3 linked regions of the Homo sapiens genome follow. The protein of the gene in region 1 purifies or fractionates together with the protein of each later gene. This does not show direct contact. Each region holds a gene or a part of one and is shown in the gene's direction. Other genes may lie near its edges. The genes, in order: TMEM267, ECPAS and LNPEP.

Region 1 (7,978 bases):
TCAGTGGTGTGAAGTTAAAACCAGGTACTATGAGTCTCACCTGATTTTTGGTTCTTATGAAGGTATTTTTTTTCTGTGTAGATAGTTGTTAACTTGTGTTTGGGGATGATTGGTGGAGGCTTCTATTCTGCTATTTTGCTCTGCCTCCCTAATTCAAATATGTGGTTAACTTTTATGGGGGTTCCGTGAACATTTGAAAAGAATGTGTACTGTTTATAGCAGGAGTCCCCACCCCCAGGCCATGGACCAGTACAGGTTCATGGCCCATTAGGATCCAGGCCGCAAAGCAGGAGGTGAACGGCAGGCTAGCAAGTGAAGCTTCATCTGTGTTTACAGCCACTCTCCATCACTGACATTACTGCCTGAGCTCCACCTCCTTTCAGATCAGTGGCAGCGTTAGCTTCTCATTGGAGAGTGAACCTATTGTGAACTGCACATGCGAGTTCTAGGTCACGTGCTTCTTATGAGAATCTAATGCCTGATGATCTGTCACTGTCTCCCACCATCCTAAGATGGAACTCTCTAGATGCAGGAAAACAAGCTAAGGGCTCCCACTGATTCTACATTATGTTGAGTTGTGTAATTATTTAATTATATATTACAATGTAATAATAATAGAAATAAAGTACACAATAAATGTAATGCACTTGAATCATCGCAAAACCATCCCCCTCCACAGTCCATGGAAAAATTGTCTTCCACAAAACCAGTCCCTGGTGCCAAAAAGGACTGGGACCACTGCTTCATAGCATATGAAGTTGTATACCTGAGTATGAAATAAAATTTATAAATTATATTATTCAGATTATGCCTTTTATTGACCACTTAATTTTTTGCTGCTGTTGTTTGACATGTAAGCATCCTCTTACCCCATAGAACTTTACTGTGATGTGAATATTTTATCCTTTTCAGTTCTAATTAATCATTTTTACCTTGAATTCTGTGTTTGCAGTTAATATTACCATTGCTACTTAATTTTGTTTGTATTTCTTAGACATATATTTTCTCATCTCTTTATTTTCTATATTGTGAAGACTTTTTGTTTGAGGTGTTTTGTTTTGAACAATAATTTAGTGATGTTTTCTTTTGCCCCAATCTGATTATGTTTGTCTCTTTATAGAGAAATTTAACACATTCACATTTGTTGTGGTATTTGTATTTTATTTGGTCCCTATTGCTTTTTGCAGAGTGGGGGTGAGCTGGAGGGAAGTAAGGTTTTCTTTTTTTTCTTTTCTGTCTTGCTGTATTGATCAAATTTTCTTTATTTGTCTCCCTTCCTGCTAGAGATTGAGAAGTTCTACTGCTCAGTTTCCCCTACCCCCCAAAATCATACATGGGTGTATAATTTCTAAGGCAAAACTTTTAAAATTCACAGTTGCCACATAGGTGCCATAATTTAACTATGCTTAGAATGCTACAGTCTATGATCTTTTTCTCTCAGAGTTCTGTAAATGTTACCTCACAGTATTCTGACATTTAGGGTTGATGATAATCACATTCTCTTTCTTTGGAAGATAATTTTTTTTTTTTGACATAGAAACTCTAAAGGTTTTCTCTTTATTTTTGGAAATTTTTTTTCAATGCCCAACTCTTTGTCTTATATTTTCCCCTTAAGCTTTGGAAAAATTATTTGCAAATGTTCTCATTTACTAATTTTGATGTTTGAAAGATTCACGCCACTGTGCATTCCTTCAGTGCATAGTAGACTTTGCATTGAGTTTTTATTTGGGTAATCAACTTTTTCATTTCCATAGTTTCTTGTTTTCATATTTCTCCTTTTTTACAAAAGCCTGCTGTTTTATAATCAATGAAGTGTACCTTCCTAACTTTTTAACATCTTTGTTGGAGTATAATTGACATGTAATTAACTGTATATGTTTAAAATATACAGTTTGATACGTTTTGACATATGTATGAAACTGTGAACCATGGAACTATCACCACAGTCAAGATAATGAACATATGCGTCCCTTACCAAAGTTTCTTTATTCTCCTTTTTAATCATTCCTGCCTCTACTGTCTTCAGGAAACCATGGATCTGCTTTCTGTCACTATAAATTAGTTTGTATTTTGTAGACTTTTAAATAAGTAGAATTATACTATGCACTCTTTTTAAAAACATATTTCTAGGCCAGGTTCAGTGGCTCACGCCTGTAATCCCAGCACTTTGGGAGGCTGAGGTGGGAAGATTGCTTGAGGCCAGGAGCTGCAGACCAGCCTGGGCAACATGGTGAAATTCCATCTCTACAAAAAAATTTAAAAATTAGCCAGGCATGGTGGCCTGTGACTGTGATTCCAGCTACTCAGGAGGCTGAGGCAGGGGGATCTCATGAGCCCAGGACATAGAGGCTGCAGTGAGCCATATTCACACCACTGCACTCCAGCCTGGACAACAGAGCAAGACCCTGTCTCAAAAATTAAGGAAAGAAAGAATTTTTTAAATTAAATAAATAGAAATGGAAACATATAGCCAGGCATGATGGCTCATGCCTGTAGTCCCAGCTACTCAGGAGGTGAGGTGGGAGGATCACCTGAGACTAGGAAGTCAAGGTTGCAGTGAGCCAAGATCAAGCCACTGCACTCCAGTGTGGGCAACACAGTGAGACCCTGTCCTCAAAATAAATAAATTTAATAAAAACATTTCTAAATGAAAATTTCAAACATACAGAAAAATAGAGAAAAATATAATGAACTACAGTACATCTATTACTTAAATTTATAATATTTGTTGGCGGTTCATTTATTTAATTTTTTAAAATAAATTGACTTTATTTTTAAGTTTTTGTAAGTTTTTCTAATTAATAGACTTTATAAACTGATATGGTTTGGATTTGTGTCCTCACCCAAATCTCATGTCAAATTGTAATCCCCAGTGTTGGAGGAGGAGCCTGGTGGGAGGTGACTGGTTCATGGGGGCAGATATCCCCCTAGGTGTTCTCATGATAGTGAGTTCGTTCTCACGAGATCTGGCTGTTTAAAGTGTGTAGCACCTTCCACTTTAGTCTTCTACTCTGGCCATGTAAAACGTGACTCCTTCCTCTTTACCTTCCACCATGATTGTAAGTTTCCTGAGGTTTCCTCAGCCATGCTTCCTGTACAGCCTGCAGAACTGTAAGCCAATTAAGCTTCTTTTCATTGTAAATTACCCAGTTTCAGGTAGTTCCATGCAATAACAGACTAATACATAAACCTAAATAGTAGTTTTAGGTTTACAGAAAAATTGAGCCAATATTATAGAGAATTCTTATAGATGCCCTTTGCCCTGCATACATTTTCCCCATTATTAATATTTGCAATAGTGTGGTATATTTGATACAAGTAGGGAACCAATATTGATATGTTATTTTTGACTAAAGTCCATACTTTATATTAGGGTTCATCCTTTATGTCGCACAGTTCTATGGGTTTTAACTGTGTAATTTTTGTTTGTTTGACTTCTTTCACTTACTATAATCATTTCAAGATTCATTCATGTTTTTATGTGTATCACATGTTTGTTCCTTTTTATTCCACCTTTTGTTTATTCACATGTTTGTGGACATTTGAGTTGTTTCCAACTTGGAACAAATTCAGATAAAGCTGCTATGAACATTCATGTGTAAGCCTTTGTGTACACATAAGCTTTTGGGAAAATACCTAGAAGTGGAATGACTGGGTTATATGGTAAGAGTACGTTTAACTTTCTGAGAAATTGGAAAACTGTTTTTCCAAAATAGTCATACTGTTTTTTATTCCGACCAGCAGCGTATGAGTTCTGGTTGCTCCACATCTTTGTCAACATCTGGGATTGTCAGTCTTTAATTTTAGCCATTTAACAGGTGTGTGATATCTAATTTTTAAAATTTGCATTTCCCTAATAATTAATGGTGATGAACATATTTCTTATACTTATTGGCTATCTGAATATCATCAATGGTAGGTACCCATTTTCACATCTTTTGTCCATTTTTGTATTGGTTTGTTTTCCTATTACTCTGTTTTGAGAGTTCTTTATATATTCTGGATGTAAGTCCTTTATCAGATATAAGATTTAAAAATTGTTTTTTCTTTCTCTTAACATTGTCTTTCAAAGATCAGAAGCTTTTAATTTTGATAAGTTCAACTTACCAATTTTTTAATGGATCAAGCTTTTGGTATTTTATCTAATAACTCTTTGCGTGACCCAAGGACACAAAAATACTTTATGTTTTTTTCCAGAAATTTTATCTTTTTATGTTTTATTTACATTTAGGTTTGTGATTCATTTTGAGATAATTTTTGTATATGGAGTAAGATATAGATTCAGGTTTATGATTTTTGCATATGGATATCCATTTGTTCTCACACCATTTGTTGAAAAGAATATTCTTCCTCCATTGATTTATCTTTGCACCTTTATCAAAAATTAATTGACCAGGCTGGGCATGATGGCTCATGCCTGTAATCTCAGCACTTTGGGAAGCCAAGGATCACTTGAGGCCAGGAGTTCGAGACCAGCTAGGAGTTCGAGGCCTCTCTAGAGACAGGGAGACCTTGTCTCTTTGAAAAAAAAAAAAGGCATGGTGACACACATCTGTGGCTCCAGCTACTCAAGAGACTGAGGTAGGAGAACTTCTTAAACGTGGGAGGTAAAGGGTGTAGTGAGCCATAACTGTGCCACTACACTCCAGTAAAACTCTGTCTTAAATAAAAAAAAATTGGCTGGGCACGATGGCTCACGCCTATTATCCCAGCTCTTTGGGAGGCTGAGGTGGGTGGATCACTTGAGGTCAGAAGTTCGAAACCAGCCTGGCCAACATGGTGAAACCCATCTCTACTAAAAATACAAACAAAAAAATTAGCCAGGCATGGTGGCGGGCACCTGTAATCCCAGCTACTTGAGAGGCTGAGGCAGGAGAATTGCTTGAACCCAGGAGGCAGAGGTTGCAGCGAGCCAAGATCACACCACTGCACTCCAGCCTGGGTGACAGAGTGAGACTCCATCTCAAAAAATAAATACATAAATAAATAAAATTGACTAGGTATGTTTGGTTCTATTTCTGATCCCACTCTGTATTCTGTTTTGTTAGTCTGTATGTCTGTCATTATACCAATACTACACTGTTTTGATTACTGTAGCTTTTTTTTTTTTAAGACAGGGTCTCTGTGTTGCCCAGGCTGGCATGCAGTAGCACGATTACAGCCCACTGCAGCCTCAACCTCCGGGGCTTAAGCGATCCTCCCACCTCAGCCTCTCAAGTAGCTGGGACTACAGGCATGCACCACCACGCCTAGCTAATTTTTTATTATTTGTAGAGACAGTGTCTCACTATGTTGCCCAGGTTGGTCTCGAGCTCCTGTCCTCAAGCAATCCTCCTGCCTCAGCCTCCTAAAGTGTTGGGATTACAGGTGTAAGCCACTGTGCCCAGCCTACTGTAGCTTTATAATGAAACTTAAAATAAGATGGCATAAGTAGTCCTCCAACTTAGTTTCTGTTTTTCAAAATTGTTTTATTCTTCTAGGTCCTCTGCAGTTTTAGAATATATATAATGAGCTATGTATAGCTTTTATTGTGTAATAGAAGTTGAGTCATTATCAATAAATCAGTTATTCTTTAGTCTCAGGATTAAAACAAAACAATGTAAAAGAAAAAACTTCATGTGTCACACTTTAGGTAGACAAATATTTTCTAGCTAGGTAAATAATGTCAATATTCTGTGCCATGTGAGAACTCAGCATAGAATTATGATTGCATTTTTATATCAATTAAGGTTATTTGGTTCAAGGCATCAGAAATGTAAAGGGGATTTGATGGGAAAATGTTGGGGTAGCTCATTGAAGTGGAGGGGGAGCTGCAAGATCTAGGGTAGCTCTGAGAACCTTTAGACGTTGGACATAAGTACTCACTGTCATCATGATTCTATTAGCCTTTCTCCTTTGTGTCTCTCTGGGATTTTATTTTCCTAGGCTATTTCGTGTAGTGGAGCCCATGGCCTCCAAGAAGAGGAACTTTCTCTACCACAAGACAAATTTTGGAAAGGAATCTGATTGGCTCAGCCTGGACCACTTTCATTACTAGATTAGTCACCATTATTAGGGAAATGGAAAACTCTAATTGGTGAGCTCTGGAGTTTAATGTGAGAAAGTTTTCCCAAAGGAAGGGATTACTGTTGTCAGAAGTATGGAAAGTAGTTGTTGGGTACACAAACCCAACGGATATTCACCACCATGTACTACACACAGCTGGGAGATAGATCTATTTGATGACCTTAAAGCAATAGATTGCAGTTGGTGGGCTTTCTGAAATTCTCCTTGATACATACCATGTACCCTGCTCTTCCTAAAAAAAAAAAAAAAAAAAAAATCTATTCTCCTTGGGCTATGTGACATATTATATATAACATGTAAAAGTTGCCAGTATTTACATCTTGGTTTTATGTTTGTGAAATTATTGCTGATACTGTTTTGTTTAAATATTATATGGTAGTCCATAATCTTCATTCATATTTTTCTCTACTTTCTCCTTTAGGGTGCTGGAAATGTAAACAAGAATAGACTGTTCATTCCTGATGGCTTTTAGTCTATACTAACATATTGTTTGTCATGGCATCCGAGACTGAAAAGACCCATGCTTTACTGCAGACTTGTAGCACTGAATCTCTTATTTCCAGCCTTGGTCTGGGGGCATTTTGCCTCGTAGCTGACAGACTTCTTCAGTTTTCCACAATTCAGCAAAATGACTGGCTTCGTGCTCTCTCAGATAATGCAGTACATTGTGTAATTGGCATGTGGTCATGGGCGGTAGTCACTGGAATCAAGAAGAAGACTGACTTTGGAGAAATCATTTTAGCTGGATTTTTAGCCTCTGTTATTGATGTAGACCACTTTTTTCTAGCTGGATCCATGTCTTTAAAGGTAAAAAGCATAGGCTTAATTTTTCTGATCTTTAATTTCCTTAGCACTATTTTGCTGATCTTTACAGCATCATTTAGAACTAGAGAGGATTTGTCTTAAAATAGGAAAGCACATTCATGTAACCTTTTTGACCACTTAGTACTTGCCTAAAGATGCACACAGACATGTTGCTAATCAAATTATTTGCCATCACAAACTGCTATGGATTCACATAGAGCAAAGACCCACGAACTGTACCTAAAGAGTTCAGTGCTGGCTTACAGAGGATGCGTTTAGCCAGGTCTTGAAGAAAGTATTAGCAAACCGGTTTAAATTAACAGGGGTGATTCTCAAGGCTGTCCTAGTTCTTTCTGTATCAGTGTACTTTCTTCAGGAGCACACTTAACATTTCCCCCTTATTCTTTATGTTTTACAGTTAGTATGCAGCTCCTAAGTACTCCATAAAAGTTGAATAGCTTTAAGATGATTCCCAGTCCTAAGGAATGACTTGAACAGATTAATTCTCCCAGTCCCTTTTGGAGCGAAAGGCATGTATTTCAACTGGACTGGCTAGAACACAGTCCCTTGTGAAGAAATTGAGGAATTTCACTGAGGCATTCAGGAGTTCAGTTATATAGTTCACAAATGAACTAAACTTAAAATGTTGGTTCAGATAATATTTTCTAAATGTCAGAAGATTTGCCTATATTTTACGTGCTTATGATCTATAAACATTTCAGGAAAGAAATCTAAACTCATAGAGCAAGGACTTTCTGTTTCATTCACCCCTGGCCTAGAACAATGCCTGGCTTACCTAGTAGATATTCAGGAAATATTTGTGGAATGAATGAGAAATATTCACTTTTTCCTATTATGCGTCAAGTACCAGGTATTTCTCAGAAATTGATTCACTTATTTAGAAACTTAATCAGTAAAGAATCAGTAATTGCTAATTAAAGACAAACTTTTGTGCTATAAGTAGAGTTAGCATAACATTTTGTTTAAGATTGAAATGAGAAGACTTGAGTTTGAATCCTGGTTGTTTGGTGTTAGTAGAGTACTTTTCTTTTCTTCAGTTTTTTTTTTTTTTTTTATGGATTTAGGGCCACAAGCACAGTTGTATAAC
Region 2 (8,369 bases), on another chromosome or scaffold:
TCCTTTTAGGCACCCAAAATTTCTTATTACAATCGTTTTAGATGAAAAGCTTACTAAAATATGCTCCGTACTTGGTTTTTTGATGCTAATATACTTGACATAATTTTACTACATTTTTTTTCCTTTTTTGTAGAGACAGGGGCTATATTTCCCTAGGCTGGTCTTGAACTCCTGGCCTCAAGCCATTCTCCTGCTTCAGCCTCTTAAAATACTGGTATTACAGGTGTGAGCCATCGTGCCTGGCCGTAATTTTACTGTTTTATAAGGTTAGGATTAGCACCATGAATACCATCTATTCAAGAGAAATGACTCAGTGCATTTCGTACTTTATAAATACCCCCAGAATTTAATTTTTTAAATTTATTTAATTATTTAGACTGAGTTTCACTCTTGTCGCCCAGACTGTAGTGCAATGGCGCAATCTCGGCTCACTGCAACCTCCACCTTCCGGGTTCAAGCAATTCTCCTGCCTCAGCCTCTTGAGTAGCTGGGATTACAGGTGCGTGCCACCATGCCCAGCTAATTTTTTGTATTTTTAGTAGAGACGGGGTTTCTCCATGTTGGCCAGGCTGGTCCCGAACTCTTGACCTTAGATGGTCCACCTGCTTTGGCCTCCCAAAGTGCTAGGATTACAGGCGTGAGCCACCGCACCCGACCCAGAATTTACATTTTGAGTTCTTATATGTTCATTTATTTATGATTTTATTGTACAGATGGGGTCTTGCTATGCTGCCCTGGCTGGTCTCGAACTCCTGGCTTCAAGTTATCCTTCCACCTCACCCTCCTGAGTAGCTGGGATTACAGGTGTGAGCCTAGCTGCTGTTTCTTCTTTTTTTTCTTTTCTTCTCTTCTCTTCTCTTCTCTTTTCTCCTTCCTTCCTTCCTTTCTTTTTTGAGACAGGGTCTCACTCTGTTGCCCAGGTTGGAGTACAGTGGTGCCATCTCTGCTCATGGCAACCTCTGCTTCCCAGGCTCATGCAATCCTCCCATCTCAGCCTCTCCAGTACTGGGACCACAGGCGTGCACCACCACACCTGGTTAACTTTTTGATTTTTTGTAGGGACCATGTCTTGCTAGATTGCCCAGGCTGGTCTTGAATTCCTGGCCTCCAAGGATCCTCCTGCCTCACAGCCTTCCAAAGTCCTGGGATTACAGATGTGAGCCATTGTGCCTGGCCCAGCCTAGCTTAATAATTTGTATGCTTCTTTGTTTTTAGGTGTCTGTTAGCACTTGTCATCCATGTATCTGCCCAGAAGAAGAATGCTTTCAAATATTTTGCTTTAACGCTGGAAACAAGATTTTTAAAAATCTTGTTAGAACTGTATATGTGTTTGATGTGAAGACAGCCTACATGAGAGGAGAGGGGACAGGTTTTTAGTTCTTGGATTCTATGATATCCTATTTTGGTTTCTCAGTAGCCTCTTCTCTGGCTCCTGTTTTCCTCCTCACCCCAATTCCTTCTTGCCTCTGTTTTTGACAGCTGAAGTGAATTCTAGACAGGAACTATCTCAAGGCTGCTGTTATTCAAAACCTAAGTGTTTCATATGAACATGAAGCTATTTAGTGGGAAAAATGAACTACAAGTAGTTTGATGGAAGAAGCAAGTATAAAAAAGCTTAGAGCTTTACACAGTAGTGATCAGAAGTAGCACTGTAAGTTGCTATAAACTACTGTATGTAATGAGACTTTAAGATCTTTTTTTGCCTAACAATTCCACATCTACATCTAGAAATATGTGATTACATAAAGATATGTATAAGAATGTTTTACAGTAGTATTGTTTAGTAAAAAACTGTAAACAACCTAACAGCTCATCAATAGGGAAATGGTTAAATACATTTTGTTGGTACTTATCATGCAGCCATTTAAAAAAAAAATGAGGCCAGGCACAGTGGCTCACGCCTGTAATCCCAACACTTTGGGAGGCCAAGGCAGGTGGATCATTTGAGGTCAGGAGTTTGAGACCAGCCTGGCCAACATGGTGAAACTCCATCTCTACTAAAAATACAAAAATTAGCTGGGCGTGGTGGTACATGCCTGTAATCCCAGCTACTCAGGAGGGTGAGGCAGGAGAATCGCTTGAACCCGGGAGGCGGAGGTTGCAGTGAACTGAGATCGTGCCACTGCACTCCAGCCTGGGGGACAGAGCGAGACTCCCTCTCAAAAAAAAAAAAAAAAAAAAGAGGTAGTTCTGTACATACTGATCCTAGTGATTAAGCAAGCTGACTCTGAATCCACACTGCCCAGGTTCAAATCCCAGCTCCACCACTTACTTTCCAGTTTGTGGCACATTAGATGTGTTCCTCAACCATCCAGTGCCATAAAAATCCCTATTTCATAAGATTGTTGTGGGGGTTAGATGAATTCATCCAAGTAAAACACTAGAATGGTGTCTGGCATAATTATTATTCCATTAGCCATTATTATCATTACTGATATGAAAGGACACCTGTAATACATTATTTGGTGAAAAGATAACGTTACATAATATGGGAAGTAGAGTTCCATTTTTGTCAAAACTAACAAAAATCTGTGTACACACATTCATGTGATTTGTACACGCAGAGAACCTGGAATTTCTTCATAGGAGGAACTAAGGATTTGTTAACTAGTCTTGCCTGGAGGTTAAAATTGCCTAACGGCCAGGCATGGTGGCTCACACCTGTAATCCCAGCACTTTGGGAGGCCGAGGTGGGTGGATCACCTGAGGTCAGGAGTTGGAGACCAGCCTGGCCAACATGGAGAAACCCCGTCTTTACTGAAAACACAAAATTAGCCGGACGTGGTGACGCATGCCTATAATCCCAGCTACTCGGGAGGCTGAGGCAGGGGAATCGCTTGAACCCAGGAGGCGGAGGTTGCGGTGAGCCGAGATCGCGCCATTGCACTCCAGCCTGGGCAACAAGAGCGAAACTCCGTTTCAAAAAATAAAATAAAATAAATAAATAAATGAATAAAAATAAAATAAAATAACAAACCCATTGTTTTTTACTCAGATTCTGTATTTATCTGGGGTGGCTTTGGAAGGATCCATTTGAAATTATGGGAAGTCAAATTTCCCCAAACCAGTCTTTGGTGCAGCTACTTTCTATAGTCACGGAAACAGTAAGGAAAGGTTGAATGCACCAAACTGTTAATAGGGATTATTTATGGGCATGAGTGGGATGAGGGGGGATGGTGGGTATGCAGTTGGGAGAAGACCTGTATACACCTCTCTATTGTTTGTAAGTAGTTCATTGTGTATTTATTTTGGAGGCAACATCAAATAAAAGAGGAGCATACATGAAAAAAGGGGTTGGTTAACTTAGTGTAGTATGAAGTTACAAACAAAAAAGGGTGATGGTAGTGCAGTGTTTTGAATTAACATGGAACAATGTGTGTGAAGGAATAATTGATCCAGAACTTTATTGTAGAAACCTGTCCCCATCAAAGCCATACATGGGGCTGTATATATATGTCCAGAGAAAAGGTCTTCTGCACACTTAACTGTAACTGTTAGTCATAATTTCTCTGCAGAGTGGGATGGTGGGGCTAGGAGGAAGGACTTTCACTTTTAATTTTATGATACTCCAAATCATTTGCATTTTTTTTTTACAAAAATTATGTATAATTTTTCTTTTTTTTTTCTTTTTGAGACGGAGTCTCGCTCTGTCCCCCAGGCTGGAGTGCAGTGGTGCGATCTCGGCTCACTGCAAGCTCCGCCTCCCGGGTTCAAGCGATTCTCCTACCTCAGCCTCCCGAGTAGTTGGGATTACAGGCGCGCGCCTCCACGCCCAGCTAATTTTTGTATTTTTTAATTAGAGACAGGGTTTCACCATGTTGGCCAGGCTGGTCTCGAACTCCTGACCTCGTGATCCACCCGCCTAAGCCTCCGAAAGAGCTGGGATTACAGGCGTGAGCCACCGCGCCCGGCCCAAGATCATGTATAATTTCTATAACAAAAACAATAAAGGAAATAAAAATGTCTTCAGTGTTGTACCTTGTACTTGGCCTATGTTACAACAGGAATGACATATATTCCATTTTTAAGACATTACTTAGGGCTTTATAGATTTCTGCTTTAAGGAATAAATGCAATTTCAATCTATTTAAGACTTGATTTCTTCTTATATAAAAAAAGTATCTGATCTTGTATCTAATTTGTTATGACAGTACCATCACTTAAAGTACAGCAATTATGCAACCCCTGAATTTGAATTTCATTTTGCAAGTGTACATGACCTCACGGACAAAGCGAAGGCAGAAAGTTAAAATCAGCATATCGAAAATAAATCACTCTAGTTACCGAAAAGAACATAGGGTATCTGAACAAAATCTCAGAGCTCACATAGGCATAGATACTTCCATGTGAACTTTAGGAATCTTGCCTTATCTAACTTTTGCAGGGCTGAGTGGACCCCCTGCTCCCGCTAGCCGTTTTGGGAGCACCAGCCACCTCCACACCAGAACTGGGCTGTCGGGGGCCGCTGCGGCGCAGGGGCTCGTCCGGGACTGAGTCAGCGCCGGGGCCGAGAAGTTCGGCGGGAGGCGCAGGGCGGGGCTTCCTCCCGCCGACTCCGAGCCCGGCTCTACTTTTCTGAGTCCACGTCTCTTCCTTTGGACAGGCGTGTTTCCCCAGGTCGGGCCCAGCCAACGTGACAGCCGCAGACCTCGGAAAAGGGCGCTCCGGCCCCGCCTCGAGGATTTCCCCCGGCCGCTAGGGCAGCCCGGGCCCGCTCGGCCCAGCCCCTCACGGACTGCGGCGCGCGGCTCCCCGGGGCCCGGCCCGCCGAACGCCTCGCTCTACAGCCCTCACCTCGCGGCGCCGAGCGCAGCGTCCGCGGCATGGAGACCGGCTCCGACTCAGGTCAGAGGCCCGCCCCCGGGCCGCGGGGGACTGGCCCTGCGCGCGCGGCGGCGCGGTTAGGCCGGGCCGCCCGCACAGGCCGCCGCGTGTCGAGTCCGCGCGGGGAGCGCACGCGGGGCGGGCGGCGACAGGTGGGCAGGACGAGCCGCGAGCGAGCGAGGGCGGGCGGGCGCGCGAGGGGCCCGGCGGGGGGGCCGCTGGGAGGATGGCTCAGCTCTTTCTAAATATAAAACCGGCGTGAGTTGGGCGAGCGCGGCGCGGAGTCGCAGAGCCGCCGCGCGGGCCTGGCGCACGGGGATTCGGCCGCACAGACGGCGGCGGCGGCAGCGGCAGCGGCTCCGCAGAGGCGCGAGGCTGCGGGAGCGCCCGAGTCGCGAGCTCGCGGGGGCAGCGAAGGGCGACGCTCGCGACGCGGAGGACGCAGGCGGCGGCGGCGGGCGGGCCTCGGGGCACAGCGCGGTCCGCGCCGAGTGAACGGAGGCGGCTCGCGGCCCCTGCCGCACCGCGAGCCGCGAGCCCCCCGGCCGCGCCCTGCCCCCCCAGCCCCTCCCTCGTTCCCTCCCCGGCGCAACATGGCTGCGGCCGCCGCCTCCGCCTCCCAGGATGAGCTGAGTAAGTGCCGCGGCCGAACCTGCGGCCGCGAGCCGGAACGGGCGCCGCGCGGTGCCGGGGGCCGGCGGCCGCATGAGGGCTGGGGCGCCAGGCCCGGTGGGCGGGCGGCGGCCGCGGCGTACGGGGAGCTGGGGAGCCCGGGCCTGGCGGACGGGCGGGGCGCGGACCGTCGCCGCTGGCGTTTGTAGGCCTCAGGTTTGCACCGTCACGTTGCGAAATTGAAACCGGAGCCCCGGGCGGAGCCACCTCTGCCCGCGATCCGCCCTGGCCCGGGGTCGGGGGAGCCCAGCCCCCTGCCCACTGAGCCTCGGCTGGCGGGAGGGCCGGAGCCCCGGGGTGACGGGCAGTGTCCGCCCGTCCCGTCTGACCCCGCCTGGCCCCGGGTCCCCGACGGCTGGTTGAGTTATAGAAATGGAGCTTTCGGGAAGGGGGAGAAGGTGCCTTTTTGTGACACTCTAGTAATCAGCCGAAAGGTCACGAATAGGCGGTGACCCTCAGATGGAGCAGGGAGGGCGGAGAGGGTCGCCGGTCGAACCGCAGGAGAAACCACGGGGTGACAGCGCTTTCAGAAAGGAGAGTTAGTGCCCCCTCGATCGTACGCGGTGCAGCCTTCCCGGGGACGGCGGTCCCTGTCTGGGGAGAGCGGTGGTCACCCTGAATCCCAGGCCGCCCCGCCCGCCGCCGGGGTTCGCCTCAATGCTTTGTGGGAAGTGTAGTTCCGGGGCGCCGCGGACCCACGCTGGGGTCATAAATACCGAAGTTTCATAGGACATAGGACATGTGAGATAATTTCTGATTGCGTTTTGAGTGTTCTCCCCCCCAAGGGTTTTCTTTCTTTCCCTTTTTTTTTTTCTCCCAATGCTGCCCTTCAGTTTATGGCAAAAACAAGAAAGGTGTTATTTGAAGATGATGTGGGTTTTAAATGGAATAAAGCATGGGTGAGGTGTTGCAAGCTTTATGAAGCTTACGTTGTTAAAGCCGCTTCTGAATTTCCATATGAAAGTAGTTATACACGTAATGTATGTTTTTCTGGTGCTTGTCAGTTTAAAGCCACTTTTATATACATGATCTCACTTTTGCCCTCATAGCAACCTTGTGAGGCAGATAGGTAGGAATTATCCTTGTTTTAAAGAGGAGGCAGGTTTGGAGAGATTAAGTTCCTTGCTGCTTTGACACAGAACTGGTGGAGCAGGAGTACTGTTTGCTTTTTTTGAAGCTGAAGTAAACACTTGGTGTGATCCTGAGCAGATTGGAGAGTCGGAGGAGACAAGGTCTCATGGTGCGATTAGAGAGAGAAGCGGGCTACAGATTGCTCTTCTGTCGGTTCCACGTGGAAGCACCACCAGGCCTTCTGAGATCAGTTCCATGTTTTGTTTTAATTGGAAGAAAAGTACACATACCATAAAATTTCCCGTCCTAGCCATTTTTTAAGTGTACAGTTCAGTGGGATTGAGTACATTCACACTGTTGTGTAATCATCACCACCATCCATTTCCAGAACTCTTCGTCTTGTAAAACGGAAACTTGATACCCATTAAACAACAAATCCTCATTCCCTCCTCCCTTCGGCCCCTGGCGACCATCATTGTACTTTCTGTCCCTGTGATTTTGAGTATTCTTCCTACCTCGTGTGAATGGAATCATACAGAATTTGTGACTGGTTTTATCTTTATTTAGCATAATGTCCTCAAGGTTCATCCATGTTGTTGCGTGTGTCAGAATTTCTTTTCCTTTTAAAGGTTGAATGATATTCCCTTGTATGTATATATCACATTTCCTTGTCCATCTATCTGTCTATGGACACTTGGGTTGCTTCCACATTTTAGCTATTGGGAATAATGCTGTTGTGAACATGGGTGTACAGATACCCCTTTGAGACCTTGCTTTCAGTTCTTTTGGGTACATACCCAGAAATGTAATTGCTGGATCATGTGATAGTTCTAGTTTTAAATTTTTAAGGAACCACTGTACTGTTTTCTTTTTTCTTTTTTTTTTCTTGAGACCAAGTCTTGCTCTGTCGCCCAGACTGGAGTGCAGTGGCGCGATCTCCGCTCACTGTAAGCTCCGCCTCCCAGGTTCACGCCATTCTTATGCCTCAGCCCTCCGAGTAGCTGGGACTGCAGGCGCCCGCCACCACGCCCGGCTAATTTTTTGTATTTTTAGTAGAGACGGGGTTTCACTGTGTTAGCCAAGATGGTCTTGATCTCCTGACCTTGTGATCTGCTGTGATCCACCCGCCTCGGCCTCCCAAAGTGCTGGGATTACAGGCGTGAGCCACCGCGCCCGGCCCCCACTGTACTGTTTTTGACAGTGGTTGTACCATTTTACATTACCACCAACAATACACAGAGTTCTAATTTCTCTATATCCTGGCCGACACTTATCTATATTGTCAGTAGTAACCATCCTGTTGGGTGTGAGGTGGTCTGATTTTTTTTCAATTGCTATGCTGTATGACATCTGAGTTCCTGTTGTAGAACCAAACACATTAAAGTCTGAATTGATAGCAGGAATGGGAACAAAACTAGAGGAAGAATTGGATATTCTGAAGTGGCTGAAGTATTTGTGTCTATGCAGTGTGCTTCCATACATTCAGGTACTGGTTAAGATGCTGATAGTTAAGGGATTTCCTGGCTCTAGTACCTAATGGAAAGTTAGGAACAAATAATTCCAATCCTTGCCTTCTTCTTGTTTTGTTCAGTTAAATTGTCAGTCATCAGCCACAGATATCGGTGGACTTGGTTTCTGTATTTCTTCAGGAGAGACTGAATACGTTGCAGTTGATACCTTAGAATAATTTAACTTGAAAGCATATACATGTACACTGGTTAAGAAGTTTCATATAAACCACTTTTAGTTTTAGAATGGGTATAATAAAATAGCAGATGCTGATAAAATGTGCTTTTGGCCAG
Region 3 (7,978 bases), about 54 Mb from region 1:
AGGGAGGATGTCCGAAACTGTATGGCATTTTACTCCTTCTGAAAGAGAAATACTGTACTTGAATTTTTGAGCTATGCAGACTTATACCTAGATTGTTGTGTTTCTTTGATTCTTAGGAGAAAAGCTTTCTTCCTAATAATTCTTGAGAACTTTATATTTTGTTTGAAAACAGTTTCTATGTACATAAAAAGGGTATTTACCCATTTGTGAGCACTTAAAACACTCCACAGAGTCAGACAGTGGGAAAGGTCACCCTTTTTTTATTCGGCAGGTATCAAGTTAGAATGTATGGAATTGTGAATAAAATTATATTTTATTTTATGAAAATATTTTTATATAATAAAATTTAAAAGGCTGGTAAGCTAAAAAAATAGTCTTCTTTAATCCTAGTGTGTTTTCCCCAATTTAGTCTTTTCTAAAATTTATCTGTTTTAGAGTAGAAAATATTATATCCTGAGAATCACAGAATCATCTAAATATGTCTTATTCAACTGAAGTGATTGTAAGTCTTTATTCTTGTGCTTTGGTTAAATGAATGATAATTTAGTTGATAGTGAAAGTTAATGTGTTTTTATATTTTTAGAGTGAGGGAAAAATACTAAACTTTTGAGAGTTTTGTTGTCGTTGCTGGTTTTTTACCATGTGGTACTAAATTCCACTTTGATACAAAATTTAAATTTTGTAACTTCTCAAAATCACTTAAGATTCTTCAGTTTTACCTGTGCTTCTTGACATCGCTCCTATAATGTATGTTAGTTAACTCTGCATATGGCAAATCTTGTCTTGAATTATATCATTTCTCTCCCTCTCTCTCTCTCTCTGTGTGTGTGTGTGTGTGTGTGTGTGTGTGTGTGTGTGTGTGTGTGTGTAGTGTGGGGGGTATTGTTATGAGTAAAACTTTATCAAAACTTGGCCTGAAAAAGAGATAACTCATGATCCATTGCTATCTTTATTACTCAAAGGCTGTTCATTCCCATAATACCAGATCCATAATAGTTGTAGTTTTTTTGATGTTGTTGCCCTTACCTTAATTATTTGTAGTTTTAGTAGGCCTTGCCTCAGTTTTTCCCACAGAATTCCATAATTTTAATGTTGAACTAACCCATCTATATAGGACTTCTAAAAACTACGTCAGGAATGTAAGGTTAAATGAGAGGTAGAACTTGTAGTGTAATAGGTATAATGGTAGCTTTCAAAGTTTTATCTTCTCAAAACATTGTCTTAGCCAGTGTATTTCTGAGAACTCAGACTGAAGCACAGAAGTCACAGTATGCTTCTTTTATTTAAGCACACAGATTCATGACACAAGTACTTGTTGAACAAGTGTTCTCATTGCAGAGAGATCTACTTGAATATAAAAGGGTCATCATACTAGATTATTAAAAAAGAATTGGAAATCTTGAGTTGTGGAAGAAATGTTTATGCTTTGGAGATCTAAAAAAGTTATGAATGTAGGAATTAGATAAGTCCAGTTTGTTCTGTTAATATAAAATGGTTAGATATATTAAACTGCAAGTAGTATCAGCTTCACCATAAGCTTGGGCCTTCCTCCATCTTGTTTTATTTAAGTCTCTTTAAATGAAATTTTGTTGTCATTGTTTCAGCATTCATGAACTTTCTTACTATCACAGGTTCTACTTTAATTTTCCTTGCCATATGTGTTTCCATTTTGTGGGACATTAGCCACCACAGGAACACAAGAGTTGTCAGAAGACTCCTGGGTGTACAGAGCAAATCAAGCTGCATCAGTATTATAGGATACCAAACAGAATCCTTTCTATTAGGAAATAAGAAATCAGTTAAGTGTTGGCTGGGCGCGGTGGCTTATGCCTGTAATCCCAGCATTTTGGGATGCCAAGGTGGGCAGACCATTTGAGGCCAGGAGTTCTAAACCAGTTTGGCCGACATGGCAAAACCCCATCTCTACTAAAAATATAAAAATTAGCTGGGCATGGTGGTGCACACCTGTAATCCCAGCTACCTGGGAGGCACGAGAATCACTTGAACCCAGGAGGCGGAGGTTGCAGTGAGCCAAGGTTGTGCCACTGCACTCCAGCCTGGGTGACAAAGCGAGACTGTCTCAAAAAACAAAAAACAAAAAAAAAAGAGTTAAGTGTTGATTTTGTTGGATTACTGACAGTTTGTTGAGATGGATTTTAAAAAGAGTCTATTTAAACCAAAGTACCTGGAACCATAATCTGCCATCAGATTGCTAAACATTCACATAATCCCCATGTTTCATGGGGCTTCAGGGAAGGCAAATACATCTGAGATGAGCCACCTCCAAGGACAGCATTTCCTGGGCTGCAAAACTAGATGTGGATTTTGTTACTTAGGCCTCTCTAAAAACTGAGGCCATGGATATGACATAGCTTTTCTTCTCACCTATGCCTTTGTTACTTTTGTATTTATTGGAATTAAATCTCTTTTTAAAGAGCTTCCTTCCCCCTTCATCCCATTTGTATTTTTAAAAACTAAGTTATATATATATTTGCTTGTTTTTGCATTCTTTTATTTTGTGCTCCATTCCCTGCTTTGCCAGTTAAGTACTACCTGAAAAGTAGCGGTTCAAAAGTATGGTAAATCTCCTCCCTTAACCTTATTGCCTGTGTGGGTGACAGCTAATGGAAAAGTTGATCGATTTTTTTCAGTGGTTTTTTTGGGAGTATATACTTTAAAAATGTACATACATGTTTTTGATAGTTTTTATATTATTTCATTTTGTATATTTTTTTCCTGATGAAGAGTGATATATCATCCTATGAAAATTTCATCTACCCTTCCCATTTTACCTGTATGGGCAGTAGCTACAGACTAGTTATTTGGTTTCCTTCTTTGGAAGAAGGTGGTGATGTTGAGAGGAGAGCAAGCTATATTCTTTTAAAAGTGTGTACAGATGTTTTTGCTATTTTGTGTTATTTCATTTTGTATTTCATTCATCCATTTTGTGGACGTGTAGATAAAACGCGGTGGTCCAAAAGCATGACAGATGTCCCCTTTGCGTTTCTCCTTATTGTTCGCATGGACAATAACTGACAGAGTAGTCCTAGTTGCTGTTGTTTTGATCTAGTCTTGGGGCTGGGGTTGTATATTATTCTTTCAAGTGTGTATAAATATTGTGCCACCTTTTTATACTTCATTTTATACTTGTTTCCTTGTATGGATGCATATATACTTAATGAAAATTGAGGTTCAGAGTATGACAAATCTCTTTTCCCTTTTCCTTACTGCCTATTTAGGCAATAGCTAATAGAGTAGTTTGTTTTGTTTTGGGGTGTGGGGGAGAGTGGAGTATGTACTTAATGTATATAAATAAACTTGCTACTACATTGTATTACTAATTTGGTTCACACTGTGTCCTTCTCATGGATGTGAAAGTACCAATGAAATGTGGAGATCTCGATGTATAACAGTCTCCCATTCTCCTCATCCCTTATTGACTGCTGGGCAGTAGCTAACAGAGTAGTTGTCAAGTGGCGTATTTGAGGTGAGGGGGAGGGACGGGGAAGGTAGGAAAATGCACTTAATGTATATACATGTTTTTACTACTACATTGTATTAATTCATCGGGTGCCCAGACTGAAAGGTACCTAATGAACCATGGAGTTCCGGATGTATAACAGTCTCCTCTTTTCCCTTTCCCTTATTGCCCATGTGGGCAATACTTAAGAGTAGTTTGGGTTTATTGAAGATTTTTTGCTAGGAGAGAGAAAATTTTTTGCTAGGAGAGGTTTCAAGGTAAGAGTATATACTTTAAACATGTATATAAATGTTTTTGCTACTTTTCTGTCACTACCTTTCTTACCTTGTCCTTTACATGGATATATGAAGAAAATTGAGGTTCAGCCTGTAGCAGCTCTCCTCTTCTGCCCTTCCCTTAGATTGTCTGTGTGGGCAGGTGTCTAAGAGAGTAGTTGATTAGCTTCAGGGATTCTTTGGTGGGTGTTGGGGTATATACTTTTGTATATGTATGTACATATTTTTATTTCTTTATTATAGTGTTTCATTGGGTACCCGGTCCTTCACTTGGATGTGTAGGTTCCTAATGAGCCATGGAGTTATGGATGTATAACAATCTGTTCTCCCTTTACCCTTTTAATGTATATGGGCAATAATTTTAAAGTAGTTTGGATTTTTTTAAGTTTTGAGGGGTGGGAGGGGTCTAAGGCAGAATATATCCTTTTTAAAAATGTATATATACTTTTCATTAACTATATTGTATTATTTCATGCTGTACCCAGTCCATTGCTTGGACTTACGGGTACCTAATGAAACGTGGAGGTCCGGATGTATGAAAATCTCCTCTTTTCCCCTTTCCTTATTGCCTCTGTAGGCAATAATTATAGAGTAGTATAGATGGTTTTTCTTTTTTATCCATCTGCCTATCTCCAGGAGGATGGGGTGTGCACTTTTAGAAATGTATATAAATGTTCTTGCTCCTTTTTCCTGTTACTTCATTGTGTGCCAAGGCCTTTCCATGGATACTTAGGTACGTAATGAAAATTGAGGTTCATTCTATGAAAAAATCTCCCCTTCTCCCCTTCCCTTATTGCCTGTCTTGGCAATGGCCAGTAGAGTAGTTATTTAAGGGATTTTGTTTTTTTGTTTTTTTGTTTTTTTTTTGGTAGGGGAGGTGGGGAATTTCTGGGTTTGTCTTTTTTTTAATGTATATAAAAGTTTGCTAGTTGTTGTTATTGTTGTTCTTTCACTCTCAACACAGTTTTTTGTTTGGAGTTGTAGGAATCAAATGTAATGAGGGACCCAGACCCGAGAGTGTGGTAAATATTCTTTGCCTTCCTCAGAGCCTGTATACACAAGCAAGTAGTATGTGAGCACTACAGGGCTTGGGTTTTGGTTTTTTGCTTTTGAGGGTTTTAATGAGGAGTGGGATTGTTGAGAGGAAAAGGCAAGATATATAATTTTTTTAATGTATATAAATGTTTTGCTCCTTTTTGATGTTAACTTCATTTTGAATCTGGTCCTTTGTATGACCACTTAGGTACTTAATAGTAATAAAGTTGAGATTGACTCTATGAAAAATATCCCATACTCCCCATCCCTCATTGCCTAGGGGGCAATGGTAGAATAGATGTTTGGTTTCTTTTGGGGGTGTCTGAGTGTATATGTGTGTGTATATACACACAAGAACACACATATTTATATACTATACACACACATTTTAATGTATATAAATATTTGCTACATTCTGTGTGTTATATAATGTGGTACCCAGTCCTCTGCTGGGACATGGATGTACATAATGAAACATGGAGGTCCAGACGTATGATAACTCTCCTGTTTCCCTTCCCTCATTGCCTACAGGGGCAATAGTTTCATATCTTGGGTTTTTTATTGTTTAATTTTTTTTTATGGGGAGGGGTTCTTTGGGTGGGTAATAGTCAGGGGGAAAGGACAGTGTCTATACTTTTTAAAGATGTATATAAATGTTTCATGTTATTGGTTTTGTACCTAGTCCTTTGCATGGATATATAGGTACCTAATGAAAATCGAGGATCAGTGTATGACAAATCTCCCATCCTCCCCTTTCCTTATTGCCTGTGTCGGCAATAGGAAGTAGAATAGTTGTGTGTTGTTTACTTACTTGTCTGTTTTAGAGAGATTTCTATTTTTGGTAGGGGAATATTCTTAATATGTTTTCATATCTTTATTTCATTTTGTAGTCTTTTGCATGGCTATGTAGGGACCTAATGAAAGTCGAGTTTCATAATATGACAGCTCACTTCTTTTCCTACATATTTCCTCACTTAGCAGTAGCTAGTGTAGTTATTTTGTGGTTATTTTATTTCATTCTCTAGGATCTATTCCATTAAGGATGCAAGTGTGTAGATGCATATATATCATTTGCTTCTTTCTTCCGCCATTATTTTCCTTTAACACTTAGTCCCTTGCAAGGGGTCTGACTATACCTAACAAAAATAAAGACCTACTAAATCCCTGCCATCTGGCTGGAAGGTGTAGCAGTGTATTAATGTAACTAATAGCAACAGGTGTGCAGCAGATAAGACAGGAGAAGACACTCAGCTATGGTTGAGTTGTGAAAGCTAATTAGATCCAGCATTTCTTATGTTGATTCAGATTGAATGAGGTAGTGAAAAGGGACCTGTGCTTTTGTAAATTCTAGAAAGGCAAGAGGACAATATTGAATAAAGCTGTGTTTAAACTTCATTGCTCATATATCTTTTAGTAACTGGTAAACCGGCGAAGCTGATAAGCCAATAAGAGTGCTGTCTAGAACGCATTTGCAAACCGTTAAGAGTAGCTTCTTTTTGAGGCCTGGACTTCTGATTCATCTATAGAAGTCTATTATGATTCCATCAATTGCATAGCTTGTGTACCTGGTAGAAATTGTGTCTTGGAATGACCCTTTCGAGTTATTGACATGGCTCTGATGAATAGAACATGAGCCCCAAAACTAAATCCAAAAGGAATTTTCTATCTTTCATCCCCCACATGTGGCAAGACAAGTTGGCCCTTTCTTACCCAGAGGTCTTTTGTGTGACTGCATCTTTCTCCTCCGTTCTCCATTGTGTGCTTTCCATTTTGTCTTTAGTGCCTATACTGTTAGGTGTTTTCTTCACTGGCATTCACAAATTTAAGCCATTGCTGCCTCATTAGCCTTGTATTTTGTGTGCATATCATGTATCCAGACCTGTATGTTCGCTTTAAGCATTCTTATATCACACTGTCTCCTCATCTACCATATGGTAAATGTTAAAACTCCACATTTGTCTGCATCAGGGAAAATGCATGGGCACACATCCTCCCTCCCTCCCTCTCTGCTCTCCTCCCTTCCTTCAGGCCTCTTAGCATTGTTTGTTTTCCCATTTCTGATACTACTACTCCATGCTGAAGATTTGCCATATTACTATTTTGGAAACATTGAGTGATAGAACTCCTAGAAAATTTGCAAAGAAATGTTACATACTGTATATCAAACTCTCAGATTCTAGTGTTGAAAAAGTAGCCTATACTTTGCTATTACTTATACCTGCTGCCATAGAAAAAAATAAGTTTATTCATGACACATTTACATTTGATCATAAATAAAAGAAAAAAGGGCACCTTTTTGGAGTTAGTCATGGTAGTCATTAGTGATATTTCTGAACAGTTCTTAATTTAAAATACTTCAAAGGAAGTAAAGGTCATGGCTTAGCTGAAGGAAATGCTCCAGAAATTGGACTGTGTAAACCATCAGTACAATAATACGCTGTGTATGTATGTGTATATAAAATGAGAATTATGGCATAATTGGAGCATTTGCATTAATCAACAAACTCACATTGAGACAAAACTTAGTTTTACAGCTGTCTTGATTAAAGCCAAGTGTTCCATGTTGCTGTGAAGAATAGCCTCTTTCAAATACTTTGGAAAGTAGTTACTTGGAAACTTGTAAAGGTATTACATTTTTATATTTAAACACCTATAGAGATCTTCAATTCCTTGAGTCTGAGCTTGTGGGTGGAATTCTAAATTTGTATCATAATCTGTCTTTTGTGAAACATTTTGAAAATATGTATATATAATATTGTATATGCAAATTGTGTTGTTTCACTTGTAAAGGGAAAAGGCTTATTTTTCTTTATATTTCTGATAACTTGTTTTGCATATGACCAGCACTGACTGAAAGGCATGTGTAGCTGCAAACACTGTTGCTTTTTTTGTGAAATGAAAATAAAAGTATTTAAATACAAACATTGTGTGGACTCTTTGGATTAATGTATATATAAAGTGGTATCTCTTCTTAGGTTATGACCTCTACCAGGGCAGCTCCTGTACTCATTGTCTTCTGTGGTTAGTTTTTTATTTCACCAGTATCCAGTGTCTTTATTGCATATACCTCAGTTGACATTTGACATTCGGAGGTGGCTAATTCTTTGTTGTGGGGGCTGTTCTGTGTATCATAGGACATTTAGCAGGATCCCTCCCATGCCAATTGCAACTAGTTGCCAATAGTAAC

The links.
Region 2: the proteins of TMEM267 (region 1) and ECPAS purify together in Homo sapiens (affinity purification with mass spectrometry; 2 studies listed by BioGRID and IntAct, with this or other methods). This does not show direct contact.
Region 3: the proteins of TMEM267 (region 1) and LNPEP purify together in Homo sapiens (affinity purification with mass spectrometry; 2 studies listed by BioGRID and IntAct, with this or other methods). This does not show direct contact.

Annotation. Positions count from the first base shown.
Region 1 is NC_000005.10:43,452,553-43,460,530, reverse strand, and holds part of TMEM267 (transmembrane protein 267), read left to right. Parts: intron 1-5,925; exon of another isoform or gene 5,926-6,076; intron 6,077-6,487; 5' UTR 6,488-6,561; coding exon 6,562-6,873; intron 6,874-7,978.
Region 2 is NC_000009.12:111,480,592-111,488,960, reverse strand, and holds the start of ECPAS (proteasome adapter and scaffold protein ECM29), read left to right. Parts: upstream 1-4,577; 5' UTR 4,578-4,823; coding exon of another isoform or gene 4,824-4,845; intron 4,846-4,903; exon of another isoform or gene 4,904-4,976; intron 4,977-5,398; exon of another isoform or gene 5,399-5,417; coding exon of another isoform or gene 5,418-5,457; intron 5,458-5,559; exon of another isoform or gene 5,560-5,652; intron 5,653-8,369. UniProt on the Homo sapiens protein: Adapter/scaffolding protein that binds to the 26S proteasome, motor proteins and other compartment specific proteins. May couple the proteasome to different compartments including endosome, endoplasmic reticulum and centrosome.
Region 3 is NC_000005.10:97,029,801-97,037,778, forward strand, and holds the end of LNPEP (leucyl-cystinyl aminopeptidase), read left to right. Parts: 3' UTR 1-7,713; downstream 7,714-7,978. UniProt on the Homo sapiens protein: Release of an N-terminal amino acid, cleaves before cysteine, leucine as well as other amino acids. Degrades peptide hormones such as oxytocin, vasopressin and angiotensin III, and plays a role in maintaining homeostasis during pregnancy.